Homo sapiens: one gene and its partner. The protein of the gene in region 1 interacts with the protein of each later gene in a pairwise test. Each region holds a gene or a part of one and is shown on either strand. Other genes may lie near its edges.

Region 1 (4,176 bases):
CTATTACATAAACTTTCCATACCTAAGAAGTTCTCTCCCACCTTTTCTGGACACTATATGCTGCTATTTCTTCTCATATTCTTAAAGATTTCCGAGCAAAGAATTTCTATTTGCTTAAATTATCAGATATATATTTGATATACATGTCTGTGAATAGTGTGCAGAGGAAATTAAAAGTATCCCTCTTCAATAAAGGGAAGTGGTTATCATAGGCCCTGGGTCTGGGAGTGAGGTCCAGGTCTACAGTGAAGGGGGGAGGAGACAGGGAAGTCAATCCTGGGGATCAAATCTAAATGCCTACTAAAATCCAAATGGACTGTGTAGGAACAGGTCCCTCATGGATAGAAAAACGAAAAAAACAGTGCTGAGAACAAGTAGGAAAGAGACCTAGAGACTAGGCGCAGTGGCTCACGCCTGTAACCCCAGCACTATCGGAGGCCGAGGCGGACAGATCACTTGAGATCAGGAGTTCAAGACCAGCCTGGCCAACATGGCGAAATCCCGTTTCTACTAAAAATACAAAAATTAGCTGGGTGTGGTGGTGCGCACCTGTAATCCCAGCTACTCAAGAGGCTGAAGCATGAGAAGCCTTTGAATCTGGGAGGCAGAGGGTGCAGTGAGCCAAGATCTCACCACTGCACTCCAGCTTGGGCGACAGAGCAAGACCCTATCTCAAAAAAAAAAAAGAGAGACCTAGAGTGTCTTGGTATGCTGAAGGTCCCACAAGGTCTATGCAGTACTGTGGTCTTTTCTCCCTTTTTTGTGTGTAAAACATACATAAAATTCACCATCATAATCAATTTTAAGTGTACAGTTCAGTGCCATTAAGAACATTCATACTAGTGTGCAACCATCACCACCATCCACCTCTGGAACCCTTTTTATCTTGCAAAATTGAAACTCTATGCCCATGAAATAACTATCCATTACCCAATTTCCCTAACCTTTGGCAAATGGTATTGTACTTTTTCTATCAATATGACTACTCTAGATACCTGATATAAGTAGAATCATACCGTATTGTCTTTACATGAATGGCCCATTTCACTTAGCACGTCAAGGTTCATCTTGCAGCATATTTGTAAATTTCCTTACTTTGTAAGACTCAGTAATATTCTCTTGTATGTATAAACTTCCTTTTGTTTATTCATCTGTTGATGAAAACCTGAGTAGTTTCCAGAGTTTACCTATTGTGAATGATGCTATGTACACAGGTGTACAAAACCTATTTGAGACTTTGCTTTCAATCTTTTTTGTTTTGTTTTGTTTTTTGAGACGGAGTCTTGCTCTCTCACCCAGGCTGGAGTGCAGTGGCGCGACCTCAGCTCACTGCAAGCTCTGCCTCCCGGGTTCATGCCATTCTCCTGCCTCAGCCTCCCGAGCAGTTGGGACTACAGGCGCCTGCCACCACGCCCGGCTAATTTTTTTTTAGTAGAGACGGGGTTTCATCATGTTAGCCAGGATGGTCTCAATCTCCTGACCTTGTGATCCGCCTGCTTCGGCCTCCCAAAGTGCTGGGATTACAAGCGTGATCCACCACGCCCGGCCCTGCTTTCAATCTTTTTATTTTCCCAGAAATGGAAATGCTGATCATATGTTATTTCTATATTTTAATCTGGGGATCTGCCATACTGTTTTCAGCAGGCTTATACCACTGTACATTCCCAGTGATAGTGCACAATGTTCTCCAACATTCCACATCCTTGACAGTATTTCTTGTTTTCCATCTTTGATACTACTAATCCTAATGAGATGCTATGTATGTCTTGAGTTTGATTTGTATTTCCCTAATGACTAAAGATGTCGAGCATTGTTACGTGCTTATTGGCCATCTGGGTATCTTCTTTGGAGAAATGTCTATTCAAGTCCTTTCCTCCATTTTAAAATTGGATTGTGTCTTAGCTTGGGTTGCTAAAACAAAATACCATAAATTGGAAAGCTTAATTAATCAACAAACATTTATTTCTCATGGTTTGGGAGGCTGGGAAGTCCAATATCAAGGCACTGGCATAGTCCATGTCTGGTAAGGGCCTGCTTCCCGGTTCAAAGATAGCTATCTTCTCACTGCACCCTCTCATGGTGAAGGGCAAAGCTAGCTCTCTAGGGATTCCTATCAGGAAACTAATCCCAATTACAAGGCCTCCATCTTCATGATGTCCTCCAATCCTAAAAACCACCAGAGACAGGGCCTCCAAATACCATCACATTGTGGGGGAGAGGGGGGGCACGGGGGTAAGGTTTCAACATATGAATCTGAGGTGGCATACACTCAGCCAAAACATTACACCTCTGGCCCCCAAAATCCATGTCATCACATGTAAAATATATTCATCTCATCCCAAAGGCCTCAAAAGTCTCAGTTAATTCCAGCATGAAGCCTAATGTTTAAACTCAAACTCCAAAGTGTCATCTCAATATCACATCACTCAGATATGGATGAGACTCAATTCATGCTGAGGCAAAATTCTTCTTCAGCTCCGAACCGGTGAAAACCAAACTAGTCATGTATTTCCAAAATATGAGACAGGCACAGGATAGAGATTCCTATTCCAAAAGTGAGAAACAGGAGAAAGGGGTGAGCTCCCAAACAAGTCTGAAACCCAGAAAGCAAACTGAAGACTTTCCATATTCTTTAGATATGTAGATACTTGTAGACCTGTCCTCCACTATTCATTTTCACAGGTATTCGAAGGTTGTGTGATAAATGAAAGCTTTCCCACATTCTTTACGTAAGGTTTATCTCCATTATGAGCTCTTTCATGTCTTTGAAAGGAACTGGAATAACTGAACGTTTTTCCACATTGCTTACATTCATAGGGTTTTTCTCCGGTATGAGTTCTTTCATGTATTCTAATGGAACTGGCATAATTGAATGCTTTCCCACATTCTTTACATTCATAGGGTTTTTCTCCAGTATGAGTTCTTTCATGTGTTCGGACAGAACTAGGACAGTCAAAGGCTTTACCACATACCTGACATTTATAAGGTCCATCTCCAGTGTGCAGTATCATATGTTTTCTAATCCTTTTAAGAGAAATGAAGGCTTTCCCACATACCTGACATTCATAGGGTTTCTCTCCAGTGTGAGTTCTTTCGTGTATTTGAAATGAACTGGGACAGTCAAAGGCTCTACCACATACCTGACATTTATAAGGTCCATCTCCAGTGTGCTTTATCATGTGTCTTCGGACACTTGGGAGAGAAATGAAGGCTTTCCCGCATTCCTTACATTCATAGGGCTTCTCTCCAGTGTGAGTCCTTTCATGTGTTCGAACATTACTGGAAGAACTGAAGGTTTTACCACATTTATTACATTCATAGGGTTTCTCCCCAGTATGAGTTCTTTCATGCTTTCGAACATAACTGGGAAAAATAAAGGCTCTCCCACATACTTTACATTTATAAGGTCCATCCCCAGTGTGCCTAATCATATGACTTTGAAAATTTGTGAAAGAAATGAAGGCCTTCCCACACTGTTTACATTCATGGGGTTTCTCTCCAGTATGAGTTCTTTCATGTATTCGAAATAAACTGGGGCGGTCAAAGGCTTTTCCACATTCCTGACATTTATAAGGTCCATCTCCAGTGTGCCTAATCATGTGTCTTTGAAAACTTGGAAGAGAAATGAAAGCTTTTGCACATTCCTGACATTCATAGGGTTTCTCTCCAGTGTGAGTTCTTTCATGTATCTGAAATAAACTTGGGCGATCAAAGGCTTTCCCACATTCCTGACATTTATATGGTCCATCTCCAGTGTGCTTAATCATGTGTCTTCGAACACTTGGGAGAGAAATGAAGGCTTTCCCACATTCCGGACATGCATAGGGTTTCTCACCAGTGTGAGTTCTTTCATGTCTTCGAAAGGATTGACAAGAACTGAAGGCTTTCCCACACTGCTTACATTTATATGGTTTCTCTCCATATTCCTGATAGTCATATGGTTTGTGTCCAAGGTGAGATCTGATGTGCCTACTAAGGGATGAATGATGCATGAAGACTTTCCCACACAAACTACATTCACATGGTCTTACTATAGTAGGAATTTTCTTGTTCAGATTAAGATTGAGAATCTGACTGAAGGCTTCTCCACATTGATCATATTCTTTACTTTCACTGAGTCCCTCTTCCATATGATTTCTGGAAAAAATAGAAAGCAAGATTTAGTGGTTTGTGACT
Region 2 (5,066 bases), on another chromosome or scaffold:
TCTTTAGTTTTTTCCATGGACTATTAGAAAGAGAATCATCCCTCCAACTGGCCCCTCACCCCAGTCTTGTCCACTTCCCACAAAACTGCTAGAATGAGCCTTCTAGGGGTAGGGGAGTCCATCCTCAAGATTGACTGACTTTCATAAGTTGGTTTTAGAGGGGCAGAGGAAGGCCATAGCCTTGTTCTTTACTCTTGAAAATACAACATTATAAAACCTTAACCAGAGCAGACATGTTAACAATTAACTTATTTATATTACCAAAGCATTCCTTATTTCTCCGAGTTATCATAGGTTCCTAGTAGATATCAAGGGGATTTCCTCAATGAAAACCTTGATTAGAGGAATCAACTCATATAAGCCTACAGGAGGGCTTATACATTATTTAATCCAGTCACAATACTTTGAGATCACATTTCGTACATACAGCAAGGTCCACCTGGATTTAGGAAAGTCACATATAGTGTTTTTGGATTCCCACCTTTTCAGGACCTTGATCTACCAATTATCTGCTCCTTCTACTTTATTGATAACCTTTCCTAGTTATTTATTATTTCCCAAGATTTTTGTTTGTTTTTAAATTTTATTTTATTTTAGATTCAGGGAGTACATGTGCATGTTTGTTACATGGGTATATTGCATATTGGTGGAGATTGGGCTTCTAGTGTACCCATCACCCAAGTAGTGAACATTGTACCCGATGGGTAATTTTTTAACCCTCACCCCCTCCCCTCTTTTGGAATCCCCAGTGTCTATTATTTTCATCTTCATATCCATGTGTACCTCTTGTTTAGCTTAGATTTATAAGTGAGAAAGTGTGTTTTGTGGTATTTGGTTTTCTGTTTCTAAGTTAGTTCACTAAGGATAATGGCCTCCAGCTCCACTCATGTTGCTGCAAAAGATATGACTTTATTATTTTGTATGGCTGTGTAGTATTCCATGGTGTATATATACCACATTTTCTTTATCCAGTCAAGTGTTGATGGTTGTTACTCTGAAGTTGGTTCTATGACTTTGCTATTGTGAATAGTGCTATGATGAACATATGAGTACAGGTGTCTTTTTAACATAATGATTTATTTTCCTTTGGGAGGATACCCTGTAGTGGGATTGCTGGGTTGAATGGTAGTTCTCTTTTTAGTTATTTAAGAAATCTTCATACTGTTTTCCATAGAGGTTGAACTAATTTACATTTCCACCCACAGAGTATAAGTGTTCCCTGTTCTCTGCATCTATGCCAGCATCTGTTGTTTTTTTAATAATAGCTATTCTGATTGGTGTAGCATGATGTCTCACTGTGGTTTTAATTTGCATTTCTCTGATGCTTATTGATGTTGATCATTTTTCATGCGTTTATTGGCAGCATGTATTTCTTCTTTTCAGAAATGTCTGTTCATGTCCTTTGCCCAGTTTTTAATGGGGTTGTTTTTTTTCTTGTTGAATTGTTTGAGTTCCTCATAGATTCTGGATATTAGTCTTCTGTCAAAGGCATAATTTGCAAATATTTTCTCCCTTTCTGTAGGTTGTCTGTATACTTTGTTGATTATTTCTTTTGCTGTGCAGAACTTTTTAGTTTAATTAAGTCCCATTTGTCTATTTTTGTTTTTGTTCCATTTGCTTTTGGGGACTTCATCATAAATTATTTGCCTAGGCCAATATCCAGAAGAGTTTTTCCTAGGTTTTCGTCTAGAATTTTTACAGTTTCATGTCTTAAATTTCAGTCTTTAATCCATGTTGAATTAATTTTTGTATATGGTGAGAACTAGGGGTCCAGTTTATTCTTTTGCACATGGTCAGCCAGTTTTCCCAGCACCATTCATTGAATAGGGAGTCCTTTCCCCATCCCATTTACAATAGCCAGACACACACACACACACACACACACACACACACACACACACACATTTAACCAAGGAAATGAAAGATCTCTATGAGGAGAACTACAAAACACTGATGAAAGAAATCGTAGATAACACAGACAAATGGAAAGACATCCCATGCTAAAGGATTGGAAGAATCAACATCATTAAAATGACCATGCGGCCCAAAGCAATCTACAGATTTAACACAATCCCTATCAAATTAGCAATATCATTTTTCACAGAATTAGAAAAAACAATGCTAAAGTTTATATGGAACCAAAAGAGAACCTGAATAGCCAAAGCAATCCTATGCAAAGAACAATCCTATGCAAAGAACAATCCTATGCAAAGAACAAATTACATTGCCTGACGTTAAATTATACTACGAGGCTATAATAACCAAAACAGCAGGTTTTGTATGGGTTACTGGTACAAAAATAGACACATAGACCAATGGAACAGAACACAGAACCCAGAAATAAAGCAACATACCTATAACCAACTGATCTTTAACACAGTCTTTCCCCGGTGTTTAAGCAAGTTTAAGTATCTGTCATCCTAAATCCTCCCCTTCAGCAGGAATCTTTCCTGCTTCTTGTGATCTGACCCTTGCCTCCTCTACAATCTCATCTCCCACTGTTTCTTATCTAATCTGCAAACCACCTCCATTCTTGCTGAAATCTGCCTCTAGTAGACCATGTGCTCTATCTTTGTCACTTTGCGCAAGCTTCTCTTTTTGCCTGGGTTGCCTTTTCCTCCCTCTCCACACTCTCTGCCTGCCCCCTGCTACTGGTAACCCCTGGACTTCCTTTATGACTCAACACAGGCTTCAGGAGGCCTTTTCTGAGTGAGCATTTCTGGGTAAGATGTTACTTCTCTGTGGCATTTGTCACTGTCTAATTCATTATATATTTACTTGTCTTCCTCCCTGGAGCTCACAGACTCTTTTGCTCAGCACCCCCAGAGCTTGGCACTAGGAGAGACTCAATAAATGAGAGCTGAGTGACTGAATGGATCCAGCTTAATTACATGGGATGAACTGGCTGTTGTTCACTCTGCCTTTGGGGCTTGGTCTCCACGTGTTCTCAGTGTTGGGCATATTTCAACCAGTGGGATGCTTGTCTTGAATGTGGGTGACTGAGGCTGGAGAGGTGGAAAAAGTGGGCTTGTTCTGTGGAATTGAGCCCATTCCCCTCAAACACTAGAGTCTGTGTCAATGTGAAGTCCACAGATGTGCACAAGGGACAGATATCTCCCCTCTCCTTCCTGCCAGGGAAGGCTATTTCTTCCATTTCTGGCCTCTGTCCATTTCATCTACACTATTCTCTGGAGAAGTTTGGACATTCATGGGCCCTTTGTTTCCTGTGGTGAGAAGTGCTGGATGTGAAAAGCATCTGGGGTGCTCTCTGGCCGGGGCCATAAAACTCGGCCTGGACCCCAGTCTCTGAGTTCAGGGGTACCTCAGGTATTCCTCTGTCCCACATGTTCCCTGCCTGCAACTCTGTTGTGAGCTCCACTTGGCAGGACTGGAGCACTGGTCTTGTTCAGTGCTGGGTTCCCCAGGCACAGGGTCTCACAAGTGAACGCTTGGTACTTGGTGAATGAATGAAAGTATGAAAGGTTCTTCTGTGTGTGTGTGTGTGTGCACGTGCACGTGCGAGAGAGACTCAACTTTGGCCCTGCTTTAGGCTTGTTAAAAATTTTTTTAGAGTTGGGGTCTTGCTCTGTCACCCAGGCTGGAGTGCAGTGGTGCAATCACAACTTACTGCAGCCTTTAACTCCTGGACTCCAGCAATGCTCCCACCTCAGCCTCCCAAAGTGCTGGGATTACAGGCACAAGCCACTGCACCCAGCCTTGCTTTAGGCTTTTAAAAGATCTCTCTGGGATAGCTCAGGGCAGCTTCTTGGGTAGACCCCACAGCCCTGCCTCCCTTGGCCTCTTGGAGCACCTGTAGAGTGCCCAGCTTGTCTCTGCATGCTGGGAACTTTCCTGGTGTTAGTGCTGGAAGACCTGCATTCTGGGAAACCCCTGCATTTGGGATATGCCGAGATGGATGGTCACTCTCAGCACATGCCGCCCGCACGTCTCCTCAGGTCCACAATCTGCAGGAGCTCCGGCGAAGTGCCTCACTGGCCACCAAGGTCTTTATCCAGAGAGACTACAGCGATGGGACCATCTGTCAGTTCCAGACCAAATTCCCCCCAGAGCTGGACAGCCGGGTAAGGATGCCTTTTTCTGCACTTGGAACCCAGGGCTGTGATGGAACTGAGGTTCTTATTGGAATGTATTTTATCCAGGATCCTATGACACATAATATCATAGGACACGTAACATGTTTGGCCACTTCAAAAGGATGAATTTTAAAAAATCAAAAGGATGATTCTTAATATTGTCTTACTGTCTCCTCATAGAAAATTAGAGCTGAAGGGATCTCAGGGATTTTCTGGTCTGGCTGCTCTCAAGTTTCAGTTGCCTAAAAATGATATAGAGAGCTTGTTAAACAAATGGAAATTCCTGAGTCCTACTGGATGATACAGGTGTTGTCCAGCAGTGCTGATCCAGTTGTTGGACTGTGGCTCAGGAGTCTCCATTTATTAGCAGCTGTTCTCAACCTTGGCTGTACATTAGAGGTTCCTGGGGAGCTTAAAAAATCCTGATGCTCAGACTGCAGCCCAAACCAACTACATTAGACTCTCTAGGGGTGGGACTCTGGAATCAGCATAGTTTTAAATCTTAATTTTGAAATGAATTTTAATCATGATTGTTTAAACTTTAGTATTTATTTATTTATAATTTTGTGGGTACCTAGCAGGGGTACATGAGATATTTTGATACAAGCATGCCATGTGTAATAATCACATCAGGGTAAATGGGGCATCCATTACTTCGGACATTTATCTTATCTGTTACAAACAATCCAGTTATACTCTTTTAGTTATTTTAAAATGTACAATTAAATTATTATTGACTATAGTCACCCTGTTGTGCTATCAAATACTAGGTCTTTTTTTTTTTCCCTTGATGGAAATCCAGGATGGAGTGCAGTGGTGTGACCACAGCTCCCTGCAGCCTCTGTCTCCCAGCTAAGGTGATCTTCCTGCCTCGGCCTCCCAGGTAGCTGGGGTTACAGGTTCGTGCCACTACTCCTGGCTAATTTATTGTAATTTTAGTAGAGACGGGGTTTTGCCATGTTGCCCAGGCTG

Evidence for each region.
Region 2: the proteins of ZNF564 (region 1) and GOLGA7B interact in a two-hybrid assay, tested with the Homo sapiens proteins (one large-scale study listed by BioGRID and IntAct).

What each region holds. Positions count from the first base shown.
Region 1 is NC_000019.10:12,523,780-12,527,955, forward strand, and holds the end of ZNF564 (zinc finger protein 564), read right to left. Parts: intron 4,138-4,176; coding exon 2,667-4,137; 3' UTR 1,594-2,666; downstream 1-1,593.
Region 2 is NC_000010.11:97,855,502-97,860,567, forward strand, and holds part of GOLGA7B (golgin subfamily A member 7B), read left to right. Parts: intron 1-3,956; coding exon 3,957-4,082; intron 4,083-5,066.